Regions from separate parts of the Homo sapiens genome. Here region 1 is linked to region 2. Evidence: fine-mapped expression QTL. Tissue or cell type: pancreas. Region 2 holds a variant in brackets; the other region holds the start of a gene. All regions are shown on one strand. Distances are between the middles of the regions.

The links. PIP is the estimated chance that this variant, and not a neighbour inherited with it, causes the effect.
Region 1: it holds the start of TPM1, and the variant in region 2 is fine-mapped to the expression of TPM1 in pancreas (GTEx, PIP above 0.99).

The regions. Positions count from the first base shown.
Region 1 is chr15:63,038,945-63,047,049 of GRCh38, reverse strand. It overlaps TPM1 (tropomyosin 1), which reads right to left and starts at 4,303. Exons shown (of 10, transcript NM_001018005.2): 1 at 4,107-4,303; 2 at 2,898-3,023. The coding sequence starts at 4,220. It overlaps TPM1-AS (TPM1 antisense RNA), which reads left to right. Exons shown (of 2, transcript NR_147233.2): 2 at 1-1,016. RefSeq lists enhancers at 2,618-3,531, 4,445-5,359.
Region 2 is chr15:62,874,064-62,882,168 of GRCh38, reverse strand. All of the region lies in intron 1 of LOC105370854 (a long non-coding RNA gene), which reads left to right. Among named protein-coding and RNA genes, the nearest start is that of MIR190A, 54 kb to the right of the region's middle. RefSeq lists an enhancer at 5,955-6,793. The variant C/T (reference allele first, on the strand shown) is at 4,576.

The DNA.
Region 1 (8,105 bases), 160 kb before region 2:
GCAGCCAGGAAACTGCTGGACACTGGCAAGTGCCATAAGCAGCCAACTAGTGACTTAATGTCCTGGGAAGGTCAGTTTCAGGTGAGTTCATTTTCATGCCGATGTCATTATACAAGAGTTTAGGAGAGTTTTCTCATCCTTGTCTGTAGGTTGGAATCACTTGGGTATTTTTTAAATGCTGCCGCCTGGGTTGCATCCCCAGGGATTCTGATTTAACTGGCTTTGGGTGCATCCTAACTTTGGGTTTTAAAAGCTCCCTAAGTGATTATGTTTAGAGAAGGTTGAGAATCCCTAAGTTAAGAAGTAAAGACCTACAAAGGGATAAAGACTCATATGCTATAAATATCAGATATATCACAGTTACTGGGGAAGAGATTGGGGGCCAGAAAAAAATGGAGTCTTCGATCCCCTTCAGCCTCACTTTTGACTTAGGTGGAAAGACAACACAAAATTCGAAACAAGACCATCAGGGATACTACTCCTGAATGACAATCTTCTAAGCTAGGTAGAGCCCACTTCCAGAATAGGATTTGTAAAGTAGTAGAAAAATGTTTTTAGTAATAATAGTAGAAAAATGTAAAAGTGTTTTACACTGGTGAATAATGACAATGAAATGTCCTAATCCCAAAGGTAATACGATTCCACCTCAGGAAGCTGACTTCTCCCTTACCGGACTTCTCCCTTTTTCTAGTGACATCTGTCTCTTCCTCCTCAAGTTTTGACTATTTTTTAGTAAATAAAAAACGAATACTCTCAATATGGTCATGCACTGCATAATGATGTTTTGGTCAATGAGGGGCTGCATATATGAGAGTAGCCTCATAAGATTACAATAGAACTAAAAAATTCCTATCGCCTGGTGATTTGTGTTACAATTGTTGACAGTATTCAGTACAGTAACACACTGTACAAGTTTGTAGCCTAGGTGTTTAGTAGGCTATACCCTCTAGGTTTGTGTAAGTACCATACACTCTATGGTGTTTGCACAATGAATAAATCACCTAACGACACATGTCTCAGACCTTATCCCCCTTCATTAATCAACAAATGACTGTATAGCATTTCTTCACTAACTTCTTCAATATTCCTACGGGCTCCAAACTCCAGACAACCTAAAGTGTCCTAAAAGGGAATGTGATCAATACACTATCAAAAAAGCCATATATGCCAGATTTAGGGGCAGTTTCCCGGTGGGAAAAATAACCAAAACAAGATTCAAGAAGCTCCCTCCCCTGCTGCTTCCCACACCAGCTGACTTTAAATAACTTCTTTCCCATTTCTGCCCCACCCCATTCCAGCGCTCCCTTCAACAAGACTTTTCAATAAAGACATGTTAGCACTACATAGTTACAATAATTATTATCCTATTTTTTTCCCTTAAGAATTGTAGTAACCTTTTTCTCCCTCTTTTGCCTTCAGTCTTACTGGGCTATTTTCAAATTCTCTGCATTCTTTTCCTTATAAGGAATATCTTTCCTTGATCTATTAGCAGCTCTTTTGAAAAAGCTAAATAAACGTCCTGCTGGAGAATTTGCGGGAGGCAGGCATCTTCCATTTAGCCATATATAGAGCAGGCATCTGATCTGCATTATACAAAGTAGGCTCAGAGTCATATATGGTTTTTGGCTCTTTTTCCAAAGCCAGGTAGTTTAGAATTTAAATGTTTTAGCGAAATCAGTGCTTCCCCCCAAATCCCCTTTCCAGGAAGCTTGATTTTCACTGAAAATTTCTTTTTGTCAGATCCTAAATGTCGTCTCTGGAGTTCTCATTTACAAAGCACACCTGGATATACATCTCAAGCCTTTCATGCTACAAAAGACTTCACTAATTTCAAGACCTGAGACCCTTCAGTTATTTGCATGTTACTTTCATATAAAAAAGTCTGCTGTTGCTCTCGGTGTTTCAACTGCTGGCATAGCTTTCCCTGGTGCTCACACATTCTTGGAATTGTTACCAACTTCCCAAGGAATTCTTTTCTAATTGGGCCTCTAGGCTTAATTAGCTTTTAGAATGGAATCCAACGGTGTGAAAAGAAGTTGGTCCTTTGGCTTGACTTTCCGAGGCAGAAGAGGCAAGCTATCAATTAAAAAGCTTCCAAAGGGCAGTGGACAAAGAGCTTAGGAGAGCCTTAGCTGTGTGCATCACCCCTGCAACTATGTGGTGGTTGTCAGAAGGCTGACAGGTGGGGGCGGGGCCAGCAGGAGGGGCAGGGGGCAGCTAGCTCACTATACCATATAAAGCACTGAGCTATATATAACTCACAGCTTACTTTCTGGATCTAGTGCCTTCAGACTGCAGACCCAAGCAAGTATCATCTTCCCAGGCAGATCTTAAGGGGTGGATTAAGGCTTACACTAATGAGAAAGGAAGCCTCAAAGTGTCTCTGTGCCCCACCATGAAGTGCAGCCATCTAAGTAAAGGTACCGCTGTGTCATTTCTTTCATTTAGAGGCCAGGTTCTCTGAACCCTGACTAGACCCACCACCAAACCCAGAACTTCCCACCCACTGGAAACGGCAAAAGGAAAGAAAGTGAAGAAAACCTGGCATTCTCTACACAAACCTTGGTGATGACACCTCAAGGGTTTTCTGCCACCAGGGAGGTGAAGTTCACCTCCAGAGTCCAATTTCAGCTGCTCTATTCTCCCAGCCTCTCATCCACCCACCTCCACCCCCAGGGAGGTAAAGGAAAGGAGAAGAAGAGAGGAGTGGATGAAATATAAATGAATGTGTGCAGTAGCAGTCAGAGGCGGCATCCAATGCTCTGGGCCATGGCAGGGCTGTGTGCAGGTGTCCAGCAGGAAAAGGTAAACTTCCTTCATTGCTCTCCAGCCCTGTGGTGACCCCGGAGTGGCCACGCAGGCAAGAGGTGAGGGAAGCAGTGTGAGCGTGCACTTACATCGGTGGCCTTTTTCTCTGCCAGCTCCAGCTTCTCCTGGGCATCTTTGAGAGCCTCAGAGTATTTGTCCAGTTCATCTTCGGTGCCCTTGAGTTTCTTTTGCAGTGACACCAGCTCATCTTCCAGCTGGGAGTTGGCCAGGGGGTACAGGGAGGGAGGGGGGTGCAGCAGGCAGCGTGATCCCGAAGGGGAGGGGTGTGGGTGCACAGAACCAGAAGGACAGGGACAGCGGGAGAGACAGAGGGAAAGACAGGGAGGGAGAGAGAGAAAGAGAAAGAGTTAGCCATTCGTGCGCCACGCCGTGCCGCGCGCCCCGGGTACCTTGGCGGCGGCCTCTTCGGCGGCCAGGAGGCTGTCCTCCGCCTTGTGCAGCTCCTCCAGCACCCGGTCCCGCTCGTCCTCCGACACCCGCAGCAACTTCTCCTTGGCCGCGATGTCCTCCTCGAGCTGGGGGCAGCGGCGGGCGGGCGCGGGCGGCCGGCACGGACCGGGTGTTAGACACACACAACACACGGGCGTCGGGTTGGCTGGGGCCCCTCGGGCTCGGGGCGCCGCCGAGTTGGAGTGCAAAGGACCCGAGGTAACTTCCTCTTTACCCGAGCTGGAACCGCTCCGCGGCTCACCCCGCACACCCACCTGCCCTGGGACGAGACTCCTGCCGAGGTCTCAGCGGGCTCAAGTCCACTACTTGGGGACACAGAAGAACGCCACTGCTGGCCTGGCTTTCGGGCTGTAGCCTCCATTCCGCCCCATCTTTGTTCTTAGGTAACAACTCCAGGACTCCCTTCTCCTCCCCAAGTTTAAGGTTCCTTTCTCCCCAGTCAAAAGTCAACGAACTTCTAACACTTGAGTTACTCGACCCCCTTTCTCCATCCCTCGCCCTTCCTTCAAACGTCCCCAGGAACCGGGTGTCCTCCTCCCTCCCCCAAACTGATTCCCAGTCCTGAGAATAAAGCGCCTCTAGGACTTGATTTCGCGGGCCATGGGAACCAGAGAAGGGAAATAAGCGTCCTCAGACCAGACTAAGTTAGACTAAGCCTGGCTCTTGCGTTTCCCTTCCTTCTTTCCAGACGCGCGCCCTGGCCGCCCTGGGTGGTGGTGGGGGTAGGGTGGTGGCTCCCCGAGTCCTCGGGGTGGGGATCCAGCCGGGGGTGCCAGGCTCGAGTCCCGGCGCTCTGGGCGCGGGCGCAGGGCCGGGGAGGCGCAGACCTGCTTGCTCCTGTCTTCCGCCGCCTTCTTGTCGGCCTCCGCCTGCTCAGCTCGATCCAAGGCGTTCTCCTTGTCGAGCTTCAGCATCTGCATCTTCTTCTTGATGGCGTCCATGGTGGCGGCGGCGAGGGGCCCTGGGGCTGCAGCAGGAGCGGCGGGGCGAGCGCGCGGTCGGGCGGAGGAGCGGGAGTGCGAGCGCGGAGCCGCCTGCTTCTCCCAGATATGTACTTTCCCAAGGGGGCGACCGCATTCCTCAAGACAGCCAATACTTTTTTGGAAAAGCTTTTTTCTCCTGCCCCCCTTCCTCCTCTCCTCCCTCCGCCCCGTGCCCCCTCCCCGCTCCTCCCGCGGGGGCCGCTCGCCCATTCGCTGCCGGCCGCCGGCCTCCCAGTTGACGGTGGATATGACTATATATGGGGACCCGAGCCGCCGAGGCGGCGGCCGGAGAGGCCGCCCTGTTTCTAAACCTGCGCGCCAGGGAGAGGGCGTTGGGGCCGAGCCGGGGCCGAGGCGCAACCCTCCGCCCTCCGCGTGCCCTTCTCCCAGGGCCGGCACCCAGCCATTAGGGTCCCCAACCGAGCCCGCCCTGAGCTGCCGGAGGCCGGGAGAGCGCGGACCAGGTGGTGGATGCGCGTCGCCCCCCTGTGCCGTCCCCCGGCGCGCTTAGCCAAAGGCCCGGGGGCTTCCCAGCCGTGCTGCACCCCGCGTCAGGGTCAGTGCGCTCTCGGCACCCGCCAGCGCCTCCCCGGCAGCTCTCAGCCAGCCAGGTGTCATCCTGCGCGCTCACGCTCTGGAAACTCAACTGCAGCAGAGAAAGGGAGAACGTGGGAGAAAGCCTGGGGCGGCTCTTGAGACTTTCTCTGCGGGCGCGGGTCAGAGAGGCAGGGGGCGGCACAGCGACAGCACACGGAGTCTTGTTTTCTGCCTGCCCTTTCCCCCAGCGGAGGGACAGTCAAATACTTTAGGGACACAGGACTCAGTGGCGTACTTCTGTGCTTGCTGTGCAGTGCCTCCAAAAAGGTGTGCATGTGTGCGTGTGTGTGCGGGTGGCAGTCTAAGGGGAAAGAACATTGAGTTTAGACTCAGGCAATTTGGTCTGTGGTCTCTACTCTGCCACCAGCAACTGTGAGACCTTGTTTGCTGCCCGCGGCTTCCTCAACTTTAAATCCAGCGGGTAGATAATCCCCGAGGTCCCTCCAGATATAACTTGTTATCATTTTTCTTGCACTGATTTTAGGGAGTCGGCCTTCCATGTTAGATGCTTAGGTGCCAGGTTTCGGAAAACATGGGATCGGCGTTAACCTGGCTAAGTCATTGCATCCGCAGCCGCAACTCTGAGGAGGCTCTGCCGTGTGAGCTGTGCTTGGAAGGAGGAGGATTTCCCCCAACACTTCTTATTTTTAACTACTCCTCCCATCTCCCAAGGGGGAAAGGCTGCTTTTTTTCAGAGCTTCAGTGGGAGGGGAGGAGAGGGGGCTGCCCCCAAGCCCTGAGATCAGCTGAGGCAGGGTTGGTGAGGGTCTTGTTAATAGTCCCCACAGAATAATTCACAGTCTGTACTGCATGGTTACCAAATATTCCCCGGACGGTATCTGAGCAGATTAGGCAGGCCAAACAACTTGTAAGTCCTTCAGAGAATGATCAAATTCCTCTCCAAGATTTTATCGGGTTTCTTCCACTAACCTAACTGCCCAGGAGGGAAAAGATACACTGACCTAATGGTCAGAACATTAGATCTGACCATTAGCATAGGGGCTGCGTGGCACAGAAATTGACCAGAGCCCTTTAATCACGGTGTGTCAACCCAGCCACCGGAACAGTGACAAAGTTCCAGGCATGTGGACGATATCCAGATGCGTGGACTCCAGGGAGCTGACTCCCCAGGTTGGAGCTCAGCAGAGGAGGCAAGAATAGGGAGTTAGGAGTCAGTTCCAGGGATCCAGACCTGGCCTGGTCACTTCCTTGCAGTGTGACCTTAGCCATGTTACAATCTCTCTAAGCCTTTTTTCTCACTTATAAAAAGAGGCAACTGAACTAGAGAAACTCCTTGCGGGACCACATGTTACTGACTTTTCTTTTCTTACTGTGCCATATGTAGCCGAGGGACTCATTAAAGTTTCCTTAAATGAAATCATGCTACAAGCAATTTATTAAACACACGGTTGTTGAGTACCTGCTATATACTAGGCAGGTACTAGGCTCTGGAATCCAAAGAATGAGTAGCACAGGTCTATGTCCTCCAGGTGTTTGGCATGAGAAAGGTGTTAAGAATTCACACGAGGAAGAAATAGAAATGACTAGGTCAGAGCAGATGGGAAAAAATTCTCTGAAAAGGTGATGGCTTTTAAACTGATTTTAAAGGAAGGGTAGCAGTTAGCTAGAGAGGAGGGCCGTTGTATGCGCCAAGGAAAGAAAAAGGAATGTTTGGTGGTGGTTGGACAGTAGGATTTTGGGGGTGAATGGGGGCATGAGACTGGAAAGGAAGCTTGGGGCTGTATGATAAAGGGCCTTGAATTCCAGATTCAGACATTCAGACCTTATTGTGTAGTTTAAAGCCATCGATGTCTCTTCTTTTCACCTCTTCCTCTCCCAGACTCCCTCACCTAGGGCCTATATTCAGAGGTCGAAGCCTATGGTGTCAAAGTATGGAAATGGAGCTATACAACGCTAACTTTTAAAATCCCTTAGTACCACATCATTGATCTCTAGACTGATGGGTTAACATAGCAGGTCCTGAATTCAATCATTTCTTTTAACCCATGTTGAGATTCTGCCATGTGTCAGGCCCAAGTCAGCTTCATGGGCTATACCACCCATGACCTTTTTGTCACCAAGGGCTAAGACAAAGCTAGGACAAGCAAAACGTCATGACTTAAATAACACATTCTTCTGTAGTGAACAGGTCTCCTGGTCCTCTCCAGAGGTAGGCTGGACAGTCACAGGCTGTATGTAGTGTGTATCCCTGTTCTCTGGCTGATTGGCCACAACTCAAGGATGGATCTAAATACTAACCAGGGACTTGGCGTTGTGGCTTGTCAGGCAATGATGAACTGGGCCACTCAGCTTCTTTCATTGCAGTTTGAATTAAGGAACGTGAAAAATGGGAATCACTAGCCGTGGCTGCTGAAACAAAAAGGGATTGCAGTGTCGGGCTGGAAATGCCACGTGTAAAAGTGATTAAGGTTATTCACAATTTTTTAGGTTTTCTCCCCAGTCAATGTCGTGGTAGCATTGTACATCCCACCCAATTAAGTTGGCTGTGGCCATTTGACTTGCTTTGGCCAAGGAAACGTGAGCAGAAATGACTTCTGGTGGATACTTAAAGAGCTCACGACTAACCATGTTCATTTTTCAAGACTGTGGCTGCTCTGTCATTGTGGGTTTTCAAGTGGCTCCCTCTTTCCCCCCAACTAACCCTTGGTGGACATGTAGTGAGAATAAGATATAAATCTTTGTTATTTTAGGCCACTGAGATTGGGGGTTGTTTGTTACTGAAGCATAACTAGCTTCTCCTGACTAATACAGCACAATAGGCATGCATCAGCTAAGTTATGAAAAAGCAGAGAAGTGATTATAGAGAAAGAATGAAGCAGGCATATCAAGATAAACAGAAGCACCATTTAGAGAAAGAGATTGGGAGAATATGACCAAATTTCAGTTCCAGGGGTCCTTATAATAACCCCCTGTATTTCTTGAGGTTACATAAGCGAGTCTATATTCCTTGAAAGTAAAAAGCTTACCAAATCATGGTGGCATGACAGCCTGCACAACATTCAACATTCTTGGCCTAGAGGCTCTACGTGATCACCACGAACATGCTTGGAATTTCCAGATTTCTCCAGTGCCTGGTATTCAGTCATTTCTCAATGAATGTTTGTTGAACAATTTTTTTTATGACTGACAAGTCCAGCTTTCTTACTGACTTACAAGAAAGTCTGGGAAGGTAAAGTAACAAATCTAGGTTCAAAAGATCTTGTTTCCATTCAAAATATGGGCTCT
Region 2 (8,105 bases):
GAGAATTTTTTAAAGCCAACATGCAAGTTGGTGGATAAAAGTACTTCATAGGAAGAGGCCCAGCAGGAAAAGTTATAGAATGGGGTTTTTGGTGATGAAAAGTTTGTGACTGGCCAAACTAAGCCATGCATTTGAGGATGATGAAGGAACACTCTCCTTCAGCAAAGTCTGAGTACCCACAAGTTTTTACTTGTGCAAGATAGCTTAGGGGTTGTTGTATCTGATGTTAGAGAACCCTCCCCCCGCCCCCCAGGTCTCTTCAGGTCTGTAGAAGCTCCAAATGGACCTGTATGTAATTTGGAGACTGAAAAAAATACAAACCCCTGAGTCTGATTCAACACCACCACGCATCACTTTTTTTTTTTTTTTTTTTTTTCTTTTTGAGACGGAGTCTTGCTCTGTCACTGGGCTGGAGTGCAGTGGCGCGATCTCAGCTCACTGCAACATCCACCTACTGGATTCAAGTGATTCTCCTGCCTCAGCCTCCCGAGTAGCTGAGACTACATGTGTGCGCCACCAGGCCCAGCTAATTTTTGTATTTTTAGTAGAGATGAGGTTTTACCATGTTGGCCAGGATGGTCTCGATCTCTTGACCTCGTGATTCACCCGCCTTAGCCTCCCAAAGTGCTGGGATTAAAGGTGTGAGCCACTGTGCCTGGCCAGGGCACTCTTAATCAAAAGAAGTACATTTCCAGGGCTGAAACTGAGCCTCCTTATTGACATTAGCACATCAGTTTTATGATTGTTCATCATAATAAAACAAATCAGGGTTTTGCACCCATGAACACTAGAAAAAGTGACACCAAGCCCTGGCTAAGGTTGGAAGATGTGGAGATTGCAACAGCAACCTTAGATGCACCTGTACGCAAGCAAATTAACATGCCCTCCCCTTCTCGGCTTGCGCAGAGCTCAAAGGAGCTTAACAGGATTAGGAGCAAATACCTTGTTGTTATTTTTAACATTGCTCAACTCTTTTGTAAATCTCTCCATTGTCCCTGCCAGTAACCTCTTCCTAAAGGGAGGCATCCAACCTTAGAAACATAACAGGCAGAGTTGGCAATAATTCATTCGAGGTCTTACCTAGTAGTGGCCCATGGAATTTAGTACCTAAAAAAGAGATTCATAACGTGGTAGAAAGCTTATTGGCCTTGAAGTTAGATAGACCTAGATTTGAATTCTGATTCTGCAGCTTATGAGTCTTGGTCAAGTTATCTTGACCCTTTGAACCTCAGTTTCCTTTAAAATGAGGATGTTACCTACCTCACAAAATTACTGTAAAGATTAACGATAATAAATGGAGAGTCCCTGACATGGAGTCGTGGAAGTTATCACCTGGTAGATGCTTAATAAATGTTGGCTACACTTACACACACACACGTGCACACACTCACCTATATATATGCACACACATATATATACACACATATATATACACATTTAAAATTTAATTACTAGATAATTAGAGGAAAAATAAGATGCACACTCTTTCACTTCTGAACGTTTCTGAAATTGGGTTGTGTCTTTTAATTGATGGCAACCCAAATTTACTAGCAGCAAATAGAGGAATGAGTTGTGACATGGTTTTCATCACTGAGTTATGCAAACTTAGCTAAATCTTTCCAAGGAGATTGCAGAATTGAGAGCTGGGAGAGGCTGCTGTGGTTAATTTGTGCCCTGTGAAAGATTATCACTAGATACTGCACATCCATCTGTCAAAAGTATCTGGGTGACTTCCAAATTTCCAGTGATATGTAATTCAGTTGCAGAGAAAATGAAACCATGAGTTTAACCAAATAGGAAATGCATGCAAAACCTGGCATATTAACTGTCTCTACTAAGTATACTCAGGATGTCAAGTTCACGGGTACAGGTTCCATAAGTCTACATTTCTATGACAGTACTTGCCTCAACTGGGAAGAGTCTTCAGACTGTAAATGTGAAAAAAATTTAGAGTCGATGGTGATATTAAAAAAGAAAATGCTATATGATTATACAGATAAATGTGCATGATATGGTTTGGCTCTGTGTCCTCACCCAAATCTCATCTTGAATTGTAATCCCCACGTTTCGGGGGAGGGACGTGGTGGGAGGTGATCAGATGATGGAGGCAGTTTCCCCCACGCTGTTCTCATGATAGTGACGGAGTTCTCAGAGATCTGATGGTTTTTAAAGTGGCAGTTTCCCCTGCGTACTGTCTCTTTCCTGCTGCCATGTATGACATGCCTGACATGCCTTGCTTCCCCTTCACCTTCTGCATAATTGTAAGTTTCCTGCGGAACTGTGAGTCAATTAAACCTCTTTCCTTTATAAGCTACCCAGTCTCAGGCAGTTCTTTATAGCAGTGTGAAATGGACTGATACAGTACAATATTAGTTGTTTTTAAAAAAGTGTTTAATTCGATATGACTTTTTTTCAGTAAATCTGTGTTAAGCTGATGGTGCATCTTATAACTGATGGCATCTTATAACACATTAAATACGGTCGCACTAAACCACCTCTCCCATCCCTGACTAGTACCACCTGTGCTCATGTTGCTGTATTCTGTGACATTAGCTGACTAGGCTGATTCAAAATTAGCAGTGGCAGGCAATCTGTGTGGCCAGTGAACATTCATCCACATTAATGATTAGGAAAACAAAAATCCAGACCAAAATGAAAGACCATTTCATTTGGCCAAAAAACTGTAAAGGTCTAATAATTCCTTTGGAGAACAGTTTGATATTTTCTCATGAAGTTGAACATCCACATACTCTATGACCTAGAAATTGCATCCCAAACAAAGAGTCGCTGCACTTGCACACCAAGAATCACATACAAGGAAGCGGCTAGTTCCATTTGCAACTCACACAATCACACAAATGCTTTTCTTCAAGACGTCCCTTGTACTTCAGTATTTAGCAGAAGTGCTTTATGCAAACTCCCTATTTTGTCACACAGAATATTAAAAAGACATGCATTCAAGGGTTGAGACTGACTGGAATTAATAACTTTTACTGCTTCGTCAAGATGCAATCTTCAGTGAAATTGGAAAATCTGTAGTGAGGATGTATGGGAGTGAATAATTCAATGACTACTAGTTCTGTTTAGTGCTATTGTTTGATCTGTGTTAAGTCACCTGCAGTTTTACCTACCATTGCTTTTGTACATCAATGTGGAAAAGGCAAATAATATCTTAGAATTATTATGAAAATAGGTTTGATTTTGCAGCTTCCTTGAAAGGATCACAGGGACCCACAGGGGCAGACCAGGCTCCAAGAATGCTGCTGTACCACAGTATTCCAATATATTAATTTATTATAATTTATTCTAGTGTTGGTGCACATTTGGGTAGCTTCCAGTTTCAGGTTATTACATATAGTGTGTAGCAAGGTTTTAGAATATATTCTTCTCCCTGCCACATAAAAGTGTACTTAACCCAGCACCTGGCATACAGTAGGCATTTAATACATTTCAGTCATGAAAATTCCTTTACAGAGGAGTCCTCATTATGCTCTGTTTAGGATTTCCCTACCTCTACCTTGTGCTGTACACAGTAGGATCTCTATACAGATGATAACAAGATATTTTCTCAAAAAGCCATAGAAAGAAATGAATTAGTTATTAGCAAAGGCAGAAACTAGAAAAGTAACTTCTGCCCTTCTCCCAACCTGGGACCCTGGGATGCCTCCAACCCTGGGCTGTTACTGAACTTTTCCATAGCTTAGGAGGAGTAAAACCCCTCGGAGAATGGATGCCTCCTCCTGGCAACTGCTGCCCAATCCCCAAAGTCAGCAGCTCTCTAGCCACTGCAAGGCTGCATGGAGAAAAGCCAGATGTCTGTCCCTAAGGCGTCCAGGCCTCCCTTCCCCAGACACCAGGACCCAGAAAGGCCTGCTCCCTGCCCTCTGGCAGCCATATGCGGGGGTTGGGATTCATGTTTCTGTCATTTGAAACTTCGACCCTTGGAGGAAAGATGCCAAGATGCAGGGATAATTGAAAAGTGACCTCTGGCAATGGCAGGTGTTTCTGGGACGTGCGCTTGACCTGCTGGCTGCTGTCCAGCCTCTCTTGGTTCCTATCTATTTTCCAAGCCCAGCTTCTCCAAAAAGTTCTGCCAATTCTGTGAACACCTCAACATCTTCCCTATAGATTCCTTCTTAGCTTACATGGGCCCACTGGTTTCTGTTACTTGCACCCAATGACCCTGACTCATTTCACACCTTCATTAGAAGCCTGTTCTGAGAATCTGCTCTCAGGAGTGGGCAAGGGTCAGGCCTGCCACCCAGGGAGCCATATTAGGAGTTATTAACATGTTGGGGCAGCCCTTTGACTCCTCCTTTTAGCCCTTGTCTTCCCATTTACCTCTCCGGGCCTCCCCAGATGTCTGTCAGCCTTCTAAGCAGGCAGTACCCATGGCAGACTATGGTGGCATCATGCCCTCACAGCCTCTTTTGCTCCCACAGCATTAGTCATGACCACCCCCACTCTCCCAGCACCTTGTCCTCGCCTCCATGAAGGACAGATCACATTCTCTTGCAGCCGTTTGTTTACTCACCTGCTGTCCCACCTGCTTCTGATCACCTTAGGCCTGTGAGC[C/T]ATCAGCCCCTGATTCACAAATGGTGACGCAGGAAGCAGTTTACACCTTTGCCAACCCCAGCACCCAAACGGCCAAGAGTGAAGGATAAAGCGTGCTGTTCTCACACTGCCACGGGAGCTTGAGGGCTGAGTACACAGGTCTAAAGAGAGGAGTTGATGTCAAGGGGAAGGTTGGCCTTCATAGCACAAAGCTGAGCCATTTGCTTGGTACAGTGCCTTTCCTTAGATTCCCGAGGACTTTTCCTAGCAGGGCAATGGGAGGAGCTGGCCCCCAAAGGAAGGTTGGAGTCACCCACCAGCTCTCTGTCCAGCCCGAGAGAGCGGCTCCAGCAGCCTCTTAGCGGAATCTCTCCGGACATAGACGTGTGAGGTTCCTCTTTACTAGAGGCAAGAATCTCTGAGCGCCCATGTGAGTGCTTCTCCACCCCAAGTCCACTTCAGAATCCTGTAACTGCTGGGACAGCCAGCCAACCCTGAGTGGCGAGATCATGACTTTGGTTGGAGGGTCCTCTGTACTGTTCCGTGACACTCATGTATCAGGTCTTTCCTGACAGAGCAACTCAATGTGGAGCCCAGTGTCTTCGGCCAGGCTGCATGAGATTCCTTCCCTGCACACCACTCCTCTGGGTAAAGAGCCAGAGGTGATGGCACCTGGATCAAGCTGGGATCCCACTGTTGAGGCCTCATGTGGCTCCCTCTGGCTGCCTGACCCTTTCCACCCCCTGCTTTGGGCCCCATTTGTCCAGCAACAGCCTGTTAAGTGCTAAGGCTTGCCTCCTACCACTGCAGAATTGGGGGCGGGGAGCCCTGGAGGTCATCCAGGCCTGTGCCTGGTAGGACCACCCCAACATTTACCACTGGTCTGGGCAAATTGCTGCTTCCCAGAAGTGGCTTTACCAAGACAAGGGCTAACCTCACTTAGGTCCCAAAAGTGAGGTTAGCCCTCTTTTTCATCATGACCCAAGCCCAGGAAGGGAGGACACAGGGCCTATTACATTATGTCTGGAAAGTTGGAGGGTTTCTTTCATCCAGTCGTGTTGCTAAATAACCTGCTGAGAGGCCACGGCCACATCCCAAGAAGGATCCCAAAGATGAGCTTCACCCACCAATGCTCCTGAGATGGCCAAAGGCAGGCTCTTTACTCCAGAAACCAGGAACAGGAGGCATAGGGAGAGAGAGATTTGAGTATTAAATTTAAATCTCTCCATTTAAGTTTAAATTTAATATTTAATTAAATTTAAATTTAGAAAAGAAAATTAAAATGAAACATTGCTTAGCTGATTGAAACTCCTGATTTGTGTGTTTCTAAGCTCAGAGAATGATCCCTCGAGGACTCATGGCTGGTGGCCACCAGTGATGAGACAAAGGCAAGAGAGGGGCCCTGGGCTCACTACACTTCTAGCCTCAGTGCCCTGCACCATTTCTGCTCTGCACCTCACCCCAAAAATGCCAGACAGCAGAGGGAACCCTGGGCTGAGACGGAGACCTGGGACCTAGTGCCAGCTCTCCCATGGAGTGACCTTAGACACCCCGTTTCATGCACCAAGCCTCAGCTTCCTCATCTATAAAGAAGAAGGACAATGGGCTATCACTTGCAAACCCTGTAAAGTTTTTGTTAAGCTCCAGCAAGACAGGGTATGAGAAGTGTGCAGTGGGAAGAACTTCACAATGCGAGCTATTGTTAGTGTTATTTTTGCTCATAGAGGGTGGCCATCCCTGCCTGGGAGGTGGCATGAGGAGTATGCCAGGCTGGCAGGAAATGCCGTGGCCATGGGCATGGGGGACCTGGCAGTGGCCTATGATTCCAGAGAGTGTGCCCAGGAGCTAGGTGTCTAAATAAGCAAATGCAGGCCTCCCTGAGGACGTGGACAGTCATGCACCCCACAGAAGGTCTGAGTGGGTAGTTATGGGCACCCCAGGTTTCTGGACCAGCTGTTCCTCCAGCCCGTCTTGGAGCTGGAAGCAGAATAGAGACCAGAGTCTGGGGTCAGGGTTGGGGTAGGGGCTGTTGTGAAGCTGCATTGTGCATTTGCTGTGGGAATGCTGGCAGTCACATGCCTTCTGCCATTGCCTGCCCGGCTGGGTAAAACTGAGCTTCTGTGCCTTTAAAATTGTTTGACATCTTTGAGATTGGAAACAGAGCTCCCCAGTGGAAGGCCAGCAGTAGCTATGGAATGCTATTCTAATACAAAACTTACTCTCGGTGGATTTAAACTGATAATCCCACTGGCAGGCTTTGGAGCGAAATCACCTATTATGGTCCTGGAAAAGGCCCCAGATTCTCTGGGCTGATCTTTGCCCATGTGGGCTAGTGAGAATAGAGCTGTTTTCCCTCTCAGGCTATGCAGCCCCATCTCCCACCCTCAGCTGACGAGACAACCCTGAGATTCTAGTCCGGATACAGGACTGAGAGCTCAGGGCTGGCGGGGAGTCCCCATGGTGTTTTGCTCTAAGACACTCGCTAGCCCAACCCCTTAGGGGTGCCTGGCCAAGCGCTCAACATCAGCAGATGGCAAAGCTCGCGCTGGCGGACAGGTCTCCATTCCAGGCTGCCTCCCTCTCCCAGACCATAATGTCAAGGATGCGGGCCCATTTCGCAGTGGGGGTAAGCCTGGGTACTGCAGTTTCTCATGGCCAGTCAGCTCCCGAGGCGACGGTTCCTTCCTCCCACTGCGGGGACCCTTGTGACCGCCTGGGGACTCTCCAGCTAATCCCTCCTGGGCCTGGCCCTCCCATGGTCAAGTCCTCTGTTCCAACGGAGGCTCTGGAGGCAGAGAGAGCAGGGTTAAATCCTGGTCTGCAAGATTACTTAGGGCAAGTTACTTAGGCCTTTCTGATCTTTAGTTTCTTCCCCTGTCAAATGGGTATAGTAATCACACACATTTCAGTGTTAAGAGAATGAAATGAGCTAGACTAGAATCAACAGCCTAGCACGGTGGCTCTCAAAGTGTGGTCCAGGAGTCCGCAAGACCCTTTCAGGGTAGCTTTGAGGTCAACACTGTTTTCATGAAAATACCAAGATGTTATTTGTCTTTTTACTCTCATTTTCTCACCCTCATGGTTTCCAAAGGCTACTGGCTCTGACAGCTGTTGGGATGTGTGCTGTGTATTCTTCTTTTTAAAATATTCTCAGCTTCAATTTATAAAATGATAATGATCCATAAACAGAAGTCTGGGGCCATCAATAATTTTTAAGGGGCCTCAAGACCAAAAACATGGAGAGAACCGCTGGACCAGCACAACACTGTGTGCTTAGTAGGTTTTCTTTTCATTGGCTCTGAGCTGTCTTCCTTGCCCTGTTTCCCCATTCCTTGATGCAGGGCGTTCCTGTCCTTTGCACCATAAAGGATGCATTTTATTGTTCATTTACTCCCAGCCCTACTTACTGCACCTTCACATGTGGAAGGACTCGACCTACCAACTTGATGCCTTGGTAATGGTTGTTTTTCTCATGTTGCATGAGCCCCAGTACCCACAGGCCAGCAGTATTATTACCTCACTATGCTGATTTCATCCTGGTAAAAACAAAA